Linked DNA regions of Homo sapiens. The protein of the gene in region 2 interacts with the protein of the main gene of each other region in a pairwise test. Each region holds a gene or a part of one and is shown on either strand. Other genes may lie near its edges. The genes, in order: SLC38A3, COL6A2 and COX6A2.

The links.
Region 1: the proteins of COL6A2 (region 2) and SLC38A3 interact in a two-hybrid assay, tested with the Homo sapiens proteins (one large-scale study listed by BioGRID and IntAct).
Region 3: the proteins of COL6A2 (region 2) and COX6A2 interact in a two-hybrid assay, tested with the Homo sapiens proteins (one large-scale study listed by BioGRID and IntAct).

The regions. Positions count from the first base shown.
Region 1 is NC_000003.12:50,208,250-50,211,976, forward strand, and holds part of SLC38A3 (sodium-coupled neutral amino acid transporter 3), read left to right. Parts: intron 1-3,727. UniProt on the Homo sapiens protein: Symporter that cotransports specific neutral amino acids and sodium ions, coupled to an H(+) antiporter activity.
Region 2 is NC_000021.9:46,122,112-46,125,611, forward strand, and holds part of COL6A2 (collagen alpha-2(VI) chain isoform 2C2 precursor), read left to right. Parts: coding exon 1-47; intron 48-384; coding exon 385-420; intron 421-763; coding exon 764-826; intron 827-2,539; coding exon 2,540-2,602; intron 2,603-2,773; coding exon 2,774-2,809; intron 2,810-3,154; coding exon 3,155-3,200; intron 3,201-3,353; coding exon 3,354-3,500. UniProt on the Homo sapiens protein: Collagen VI acts as a cell-binding protein.
Region 3 is NC_000016.10:31,427,035-31,429,673, forward strand, and holds COX6A2 (cytochrome c oxidase subunit 6A2, mitochondrial precursor), read right to left. Parts: upstream 1,327-2,639; 5' UTR 1,292-1,326; coding exon 1,219-1,291; intron 1,118-1,218; coding exon 981-1,117; intron 824-980; coding exon 740-823; 3' UTR 697-739; downstream 1-696. UniProt on the Homo sapiens protein: Component of the cytochrome c oxidase, the last enzyme in the mitochondrial electron transport chain which drives oxidative phosphorylation.

The DNA.
Region 1 (3,727 bases), on a different chromosome or scaffold from region 2:
CAGCTTTCTCTCTTTTTTTTTTTTTTTTTTTGAGATAGGGTCTCGCTGTGTTACCCAGGCTGGAGTGCAGCGGCGTGATCTTGGTTCACTGTAGCCTCTGCCTCCCAGGTTCAAGCAGTTCTCCTGCCTCAGCCTCCCGAGTAGCTGGGATTACAGGCACCTGCCACCATGCCTGGATAATTTTTGTATTTTTAGTAGAGATGGGGTTTCACCATGTTGGCCAGGCTGGTCTCAAACTCCTGGGCTCAGGTGATCTGCCCGCCTCGGCCTCCCAAAGTGCTGGGATTACAGGCGTGAGCCACCATGCCCGGCCTTACAGCTGTCTCTTGCTGTCTTGTTGTCTGTCTCTTCCTCCATTTGGCTGTCTCTGACTGGGTGCTCACTCTGTTTCTCACCTCCCTGGTTGTTTCTGTCGCTGTCTGTCTCCTGTCTAAATGTCTGTCCGCTATCTGCATGTGGTTTTTGTCTGTGTGTTTTTCTGTCTGTGTCCCTCTGTGTGCATCTGCATTTCCCTGTCACCCTGGGCCGCTGCATCTCTGTCTGTCTGTCTCTGTGTGTGGATCAGTATGCATGGACGCATGGAGCTAATGACTGTGTTTTCTCTCCCTGCTCTGTCCCTGTCTATCTCTCTTCCCTCCCTCTGCCTTTTCTTCCTGATGTTGGATGTCTCCCCTCCTCCAGGCCGACCTTGACTTTAGCCCCCCATCGGACTCTCTGATGAGTCCTGAACTGCCCGAGGCCTGTGCTTCAGCTTGCTTTGGGGCCAGAAGTCCGGCTGTCTAAATATTTGGCCGCCTCCAGGGGATTCCGGGTCAGCAGGGAGGAGAATGGGCTGGCTGGCGCAGGGTCTCCCCTGCCCCTGGGGGGCCACAGTCACGTGATGTCCTGTCCTTTGCCTCAGCTGGGCCTCCGGCTGCACGTCCTTCTCAGCAGGCTGGCAATGGGTGAGGTGGGGGCTGCTGTTGCTCTAGCCCACTCGTGAACCAAGAGCTTCTGACTGCAACCTCTATGGGTGGCAGCCTGAGCAAGGAGGGTCCAGGGCTGGGTGGGAAGGGAGGCTGAGGTGCCTAAGGTTAGGCCCAGCTACAAGCATCTGTTAGAAAACGTACCTGGCCATGGCCGGGCGCAGTGGCTCAAGCCTGTAATCCCAGCACTTTGGGAGGCCAAGGTGGGTGGATCACGAGGTCAGGAGATCGAGACCATCCTGGCTAACATGGTGAAACCCCGTCTCTACTAAAAAATACAAAAAATTAGCTGGGCGTGGTGGCGGGCGCCTGTAGTCCCAGCTACTCGGGAAGCTGAGGCAGGAGAAAGGTGTGAACCCAGGAGGCGGAGGTTGCAGTGAGCCGAGATCACGCCACTGCACTCCAGCCTGGGTGACAGAGCAAGACTCCGTCTCAAAAAAAAAAAACAAGAAAAAAAAAGAAAATGTACCCGGCCACAGGAAAGTCTACCTTCCGGCCCCAGCTGGGTCTCTCAGATCCTCCTAGACACCTCCGGATGCCCAGAACACAGAGCCACAGACCCTAGATCCCAAGGCCAGGGAGCTGGGGGCTGAGGATTAACATGGCCGGTAGTTCAGTTCTCTGGGCCATCTGCCTTCCCCTGGATATGCCCCCGCCTGCATGTCACTTCTTCAGTATTAGCCCAGTGTTGGCCACACACTGGCCACTTGCACTGTTGTGTTGTTGATGAGGAGGACATGAAAACATGGGTCTAGAGGAGGGTAAGAGGTGTCTTTTCCCTGTTCTAACACCCTCCTCCCACCTGCTTTGTCCCTAGACCCCTGACCCCAGCAATCAGCTACCACCAATTCCTATGGCTGTGCCTTGAGAACATGCAGTCCAAATGTCTCCATTGGATCTGGTTTCCCCCCTTACTAACACCTTCTCCTAGTAGGGGGCATCTTCCCTCTGAAGCCTGGAGGAGCAGGTGGACAGAGGGGTAGCTGTCCAGATGGGTACCAGACTTAGGAGGGGGGCACCCTGTCTCAGCCAAGGAGGGGAGTGGTAAAAATGAGCTGAGCTGGAACTGGGGGCAGCCCTCACCCCTGAGCCCCCAGGGATAATCACGATGGACCCTCAAGCCAGGCCAGCTGTCTCTCTCCTGAGATCTTGGCGGAGGTCAGGTAGCCTGGGCCTCAGCAATAAGCTCCAGAGGGTCTGTGCCTCCACTGGTGCAAGTCGTCACCAAGGTAAAAAGAGTGCGAAGGCCTCCCTGTCACCAGCTCACTACTGCCGACCCAGACCCACTTATGTTCCTGAGCATGGGGAAGGAAAGCAAGGCTCAGAGTCCTGGGGACTCCAAGGACCTTGATCCCTGGGCAGAGAGCTGTGCTTCCTGTAGCTGCTTGCATCAGCCGCCCTGAAGTGGCCTGGGTTCCTGGGGCTCAAAATCTTTAATTAGCCAAACTCAACACCTGCCGAGGTGTGCCTGATGAATTCTCACCAGGTGATGTTCGCGTGGGCGGGCGTTACCTGCTGCGCCATCCCTGTGGCTCCTGGCCCCTCCTGGCCCTTATCTCCCAGGAAAACAAACAGGTCCCAGGGCAATGGCCTGGGCCATTGATTTACTGCCCGGGTTCACACTACATCCATGACAGATGCCATTCTGATGACCTGCCCAAGGCCACCGTGATCTCCCCACCCTAGCTCCTGGCCACTCTCTGGGCACCCATGGACTGTTCTGGGGATGAAGGCTTTGGGGAGGCTCCTCACTCATCCCCAGCTTTGACCAAGCCTCACGGGACCCCTAGAGGACAGGGATACACTGAGGTCCTGAGCTGGGGAGTACCCTGCCCCTGGCCACACAGTGAGGCAGGGCCAAGCCCAGCCCTAGAGGGTCTACTCTGGGCTTTCACCACAGGGGATCAGGCTCTGCTGGCAGCCTTTCTTATGCAGGAGCCCTTCCCTGAGTTTACCCCGATTCCGATTCCCGGATACAAAGGAGCCTGGGAGGCCACAGGCCTGAGGGGTAGGAGCTGTCAAAAATGGGCTGGCAGCCTCAGGGAATGGCTGGGGGCTCCATGCCAGGCCAGTGCTAATCCTCACCCTGGCCCCCAGCCCCCAGCCCTCCTCCCTGCCCTGGACCAAAGTCCAGACTCCTAGACCTGGCCTTTACAGCTGTATCAGGTTTGTCTGTTGCCACAGAACCTTCCTTCAACGCTTACAGCTTGCCTCGTACTGCACCTCAGGGCCTCTGCCTATGCTGTGCTCTCTGCCTGGTACACTCTTTCCTGTTTGACACCCCAGGGTGCCTACTGGAATTTTAGTACTGGCTTCGCACCTCCTCCAGGAAGTCTTCCTTGATGCCCCCATCCTTTTTTTTTTTTTTTTTTTTTTTTTTTCTTTTTTTTTGAGATGGAGTTTGGCTCTTGTTGCCCAGGCTGGAGTGCAATGGCGCAATCTCAGCTCACTGCAACCTCCACCTCCTGGGTTCAAGCAATTCTCCTGCCTCAGCCTCCTGCGTAGCTGGGATTACAGGCATGCGCCACCAGCCCGGCTAATTTTGTATTTTTAGTAGAGATGGGGTTTTTCCATGTTGGTCAGGCTAGTCTCAAACTCCTGACCTCAGGTGATCCTGCTCTCCTCGGCCTCCCAAAGTGCTGGTATTACAGGCGTGAGCCACTGCGCCCGGCACCCCCATCCTCTTTTTTGAGACCCAGCATTATGTGGCTCACACTCAGTTGCAGCAGGAGCTATAGAGTAGTGATGAGGGTGCTATCTGG
Region 2 (3,500 bases):
ACCCCGGCAGGCCTGGATTCAGCTACCCAGGACCCCGAGGAGCACCCGTGAGTCACAGCCTGGGATGGCAGCTCCCAGGAGTGGGTGGACATTGTCCCAAGGGCCCTGAAGATTCCTAGTAGTTCCCTCAAGGCCTCCTCTGTGCAGAAGAAAGTGTGAGGTCCCTCCTGCGGGACAGAGTGGTGAGAAGGCTTCGGGTGACTCAGTGAAGGATAGGTCCAGCCCAGCATCAGGAAAAGAGCACAGCTCAGAACGCAGCACAGTGGCCTCACCCAGAGTGTGAATGAGCGAGGGAGGGAAACGGGGCTGCAGAAAGCTGCCCAGAGGGAGGAAGGAGCACTGGGATCTGAGGCTGAGTCACCCTGGCTTCTGTTTGCTTCACAGGGAGAAAAAGGCGAGCCCGGCCCACGCGGCCCCGAGGTATGTGTGGGTCCTGGCCACCTGTGCCCACCCAGGGTGGGGGTCTGCACGCCCAATTGCTGGGAACACAATGCCCACCGTCACTGACAGGACCACCCCTGTCTTGAGATGGTCCTGGCTCCCCAAGGCCCAGCCATGTCACCTATGCTGAGCTCTGGGGGAGCTGTCAGCCACTGGCTGGTCCCTTTTCAACCAAAGTTCAGGCTTTGCAAAAAAACCACATAGATGCTCCCGTTTAAAGGACCCCAAAATGCCAGATCGATTTTTCCACATAAAAATCTCACTGGTGTCCCTGGTAGAGACAGCTCCTCTGTCCCAGGCTAACATGTGTTCCCTGTCACAGGGAGGCCGAGGCGACTTTGGCTTGAAAGGAGAACCTGGGAGGAAAGGAGAGAAAGGAGAGCCTGTGAGTGTCACCGTCCCGAAGCCCACAGCAGCTGGGCAGAGGCAGGGAGGGGCCCTGAGGCTGAGCGTGTGCATCTATGAGTACAGGAGAACGCCAGGCAGCTTGGCCCCAGCCATGAGCACCACCCCCACCTTCCTAAAGGGAACGGCTGGCTCAGGGGCCCCCTCCCTCAACCCAGCCTCCCTTCCAGCGTCCCCTCCCCAGTGACCCCCCAACATCCCCCCCACAGCATCCCCCACAAGGGTCCCCTCCCTAGTGACCCCTCCACAACATCCCCCCAGAGTCCCCTCCCAGCATCCCCACTACAGCATCCCCCACCAGGGTCCCCTCCCCAGCGACCCCAACATAGCATCCCCTCCAGAGTCCCCTCCCCCAAAAGATGCCTCCACATAGCATCCCCCTCAGAGTTCCTACACACAGCATTCCCCAAGGGTTCCCTCCCCAATGTCCTCCCCACAGTTATCCCCCAGAAGGTGCTCTGTGCCTCCAAATCCCTAGCCTGGCCAAGGGTTTAACCAGGGCTGCAGGTTGGTCTGGAACTGAGCACAAAACAAGGGATGGATAACGATGGATGGATGGGCAAGTGGATGGGGGTGGGCAAATGGATGGATGGGAGGATGGGTGATGGATGGATGAGTGAATAGAAGAGTGGGTGGATAGAAGATGGATGAATGGATGGATTGCTGGATGAGTGGGTGGGTGGATGGATAAGTGGATACATGGGTGAATGAGTAGATGTATGGGTGAGTAGGTGGGTAGGTGGGTAGATGGATGGGTGGGTGGGCGAGTGTGTGGTTAGATGATGGATGGCTGAATGGATGAGTGGGGGGATGGATGGGTGAGTGGGTGTATGTATGGATGGGTTAGTGGGTGGGTGGATGAATGGATGGGTGCATAAAGGATGGATGGATGAATGAGTTAGTGGGTTGGCAGATGGATGGATGGGTGAGTCAGTGGATAGATGGATGGGTGGGTGGATAGAGGATGGATGGTTGGGTAGGTGATGGGTGGATGAGTGGATAGATGGGTATGTGAGTGAGTGGGGGGATGGGTAGGTGGGTGGATGGATGGTTAGGTGAATGAGTGGATGGACAGACGGACAGTGGGTGGATGGATGAGTGAACGGATGGACCGATGGATGAATGGGTGGGTGGGTAGAGGATGGACGGACAGGTGAGTGGGTGGGTGGATGGATAGATGGGTAAGTGAGTGGATAGATAGATGGGTGGGTGGACAGAGGATGGGTGGATGAATGGATGGGTTAGTGGGTGGCTGGGTGGATGGATGATGGATGGGTGACTGGGTGGATGGATGGATGGGTTAGTGGGTGGCTGGGTGGATAGATGGATGGGTGATTGGGCGAATGGGCGAATGGGTGGATGGGTGGGCGTGGAGTTGGTGGGTACATGATAATGGGGTGGAATACCCATGGATTGGAATGAGCTGTTTTGGCTGCTATTTCTGGGACACCCAGCTCTGCCAGGCCCCTACCCCTCTGGTGGGCCAGGCTCTGACGGTGGCCACTCATGGCCTTTCTAGCTCTGGTGCCAGCATAGGGAAGGAGGAGGCACAGCCTTGTCTTACTCCTTGCACCTGTTAGCCCCCCCCCCCGCCAAGGGAGGACCCGTGGTTGGGGACAGCACAGGGGGCCCTGCTGTGTGCAGGGACTGTCCCTGGGGCCACTGAAGCCCACCTGTTCTTGTTCCTTCTCAGGCGGATCCTGGTCCCCCTGGTGAGCCAGGCCCTCGGGGGCCAAGAGGAGTCCCAGGACCCGAGGTAGGTTGGTGGCCAGTCCCCATGCCCTCCCCCCAACCTGCCAGGCCAACACACACCCAAGCCTCGTGGTTCTGCCCACGGTGGACCCACGTATCAGTGGGCAGTGGCCTGGGAGAGACTCAGCCACCCAGCCTTGGCCCCAGAGTCTCAGCCTCATCCTTCCTTCCCCAGGGTGAGCCCGGCCCCCCTGGAGACCCCGGTCTCACGGTAGGTGTCACATGGGGCAGAACCAGTGTCCTTCTCCTGCCAAAACTAGACACCAAGAGCAGCAGGGGTGGGGGAAGGTCAGCTGGCACGGTCAGAGAGCAAGATCAGTGGAGGAGGTCAGAGGGCAAGGTCAGAGAGCAAGCTTGGTTGGGGAAGGTCACAGGGCAAGGTTGGTGGGGGGAGGAGGGTGGCAGCGAGGTTGGTAGGGACAGGACCCGCCAGCCTCCCCGCATGGCTGCCTCCACACGTGGGCTGGAATGTCCCGGGACCCCCAGGCCAGGACCTTGCTGTGGAAACTCTTCTGGGGCCCCGGGGGGACTACCCTGCCTGCCGTGTGCATTGCAGGAGTGTGACGTCATGACCTACGTGAGGGAGACCTGCGGGTGCTGCGGTGAGGCACTGCCCACGGCAGGGTCGGGGCCCATGCACCGGGTGGAGGGCGGGAGTGCAGCAGGGCTGGGTCATCGCTGGGTCCTGCATGTGCACGTGACCCTAGGGTCTGAGGTCTCCCCGGTACCCCCCGATGACCCTGCCACCCCCCCAGACTGTGAGAAGCGCTGTGGCGCCCTGGACGTGGTCTTCGTCATCGACAGCTCCGAGAGCATTGGGTACACCAACTTCACACTGGAGAAGAACTTCGTCATCAACGTGGTCAACAGGCTGGGTGCCATCGCTAAGGACCCCAAGTCCG
Region 3 (2,639 bases), on a different chromosome or scaffold from region 2:
AACCCGGGAAGCGGAGCTTGCAGTGAGCCGAGATTGCACCACTGCAGTCCGCAGTCCGGCCTGGGCGACAGAGCGAGACTCCGTCTCAAAAAAAAAAAAAAAAAAAGAAAGAAAGATTATAGAGAATTATCAAAAGATTCCAAATCCAGCATTAGGTCCCAAGGCCTCACACACAGGACTGTGGAGCCTCCGTCTGAAATCCAGAGAGCTGGGATTCACAGACACCAGCAGCTCAGGTGTCAGGCAAGAAGTGGGACTTCAGGATCTGCAGCCCTGGGCTCCCATGGGGGCTCTGCCGAGCTGCCGGAACTTGGACAAGTCATTTAATTCCCAAGAATCTCAGGTCTTCCTCGGGAGAAGGTGAACTAAATTTATACCCTGCTCCCAGCGTTACTGTGAGGATTCGGTGTACGCGGAAGCCCATTACAGCCTAGAGCCCTAATTATTAATAGGTGTGTGTGAGAGGGAGGCCTCATTATTACCAGGTGAGAGACAGGGAGCTGGGATCGCCTACCTGTGAGTGGAGGAGGCTCCCTCGAGCACCTCCGTATCAGCGGCGTGGGAAAAGCACGTGGAGCGCCCACCGCGCTAGGCGCATGCGCGGAGCAGGAGCGCTTACCAAGCTGGGCGCATGCGCGGAGCGGGCGCCTCTGGGCGCGCTCCCCGTGGCCCCGCCCTCCCCACAGAGCCGCAGACTCGAAGCTTCACACCTTTATTGTGTCCGGGGGCGTCCGGGGCCTCAGGGGTGTTCGTAGCCCGTGGGCAGAGGGTTCACGTGGCTATTGTGGAACAGAGTGTGGTTGCCGTCCCCCCAGGGGTAGGGCTGTGGAGAGAGCGGGGGAGGGAGCGCGCGTGAGCGCCGTGAGTCCGGAGTCCGCGCCCCGCGCGACCCCCCCCCCGCAGCACCCCCCCCCGCCCCCGCAGCACCCCCCCCCGCCCCCGCAGCACCCCCGTGCCGCCCGCGCGCCCGTCCCGCGTACCTTGGTGCGGATGCGGAGGTGTTGGTAGGGACGGAACTCGGGGCGCGGGCGGTGGCCCGAGTGGAGATAGGAGTTGAAGGTGCAGAGGGCCACGCTGGGCAGCGCCAGCACGAAGGTCAGCAGACGCCAGGTACGAGCTGCGGACGGAGCGGGGTGAGCGCGGCGGTCCTGGGGCGGCGGGCCTGTGAACAGGTGGGCAGGGTAGGGGAGCCCCCGGATCCGCCCGTTCCCCACTCACCTCCTGCTCCTCCGTGGCCTCCTTTGGCAGCGCTGGCCAAGCCCCGGGTCAGGGGCCTCAGAGGCAAAGCCATGATGGTGCGGGGAGCCGGGAACCAGCGCTGTCCTCGCTCCCTTTCCTGGGGCCTGGGGTCACCTCCCCTCTCTGGGCCAATCACCTGTTGAGTCTGGAGCACTGGCGGCTATTCTTAGGGGTTTCTATATTTAAAATGGGGCCTGACTGGCTTGAGGTCATCTCCAGACAGCTGTTGTCCTGTGCCTCTTATTTTGGCAAGGAGGCATTTAAGTACAATATGCCATTCTTTTTATATAGTTGCAGGGAAACTATTTTGTTCCCTATTCTATGCCTGGTGGCTGGCACACAGTTGGGCTTTAATAAATATTTGTAGAATGAATTAAGTGTCTTTTTGAGTCTCAGTGTTTTCAGCTGTAAAATGTATAATAATTCGTACCTTAAAAGATTTTTTAAATACTGGAGACGGGGATCTCACTATATTGTCCAGGCTGGTGTGGAACTCTTGAGCTCACGTGATCCTCCCGCCTCAGCCTCCCACAGTGCTGGGATTACAGGCATGAGCCACTACACGGCCCTTACATCATTTTTATGAAGTTTATGTAAGGTAGGAATGTGTCAACCTGGATTTTGGCAGGTAACAGTAGTTCAGTATATGTATTAGTCACAGTTCTTTGCAAAGAACAGAACTCACTCTTACTAGTTTTAGAAGATAAGTAATTGAGAATCTTAGGTAGCTTACTATGTCTGATATAGCCAGAGATGCCTACAGTCTGCACAGTCATAAACAAGTCATTCCGTTGGCCAGCTGCAGTGACACCCCCACAGCTCACACTGCTGGACCCTGGATGCCAAAAGCTTCATTAAGGCTGCCCTGGAAAACCAGAATTTTCCACCCTCATCCCCTCTTGAAAACAGATTCTTCATGAAACCTGTATCCTGGGTCGCTCTTTTCTGAAAGAATTATGTGATTGCACCAACTGGCAACCCCTAGGTCCCCCAGCTGCAGGAGGGGATGGGAAACTGAGCTCTGGATTCTGCCTTAGGGAGGCAGGAATTGTAGGGAAAATCTCCAGGTCTAGGATGAGTATTCAAAAGGTTCCAGGCAGCCACAAGCCTGACAGGTGTCTACTGCAAAGTGCATTATTTCAATCTGAAAAATATGACTACTTGGAGAAAGCAAGCCTAGACAGGGCTGGTGTGAACCCTCTATCAAAGCAGGTCACAAGAAAGCCACAAGACCAGGCAGGGATGACATCTGCCTGTTCTGTCCTCAGCAACGGGCAGGGACCTTGGCATGAAGGAGGTGTTCTAAAAATATGTATGTAATGAATGCTTGAACCTTGTTACTTTGGTTAACCCTACAACAATGCCTTTTCAGAATTACAATCCAATAGGAAGCTTCTAGC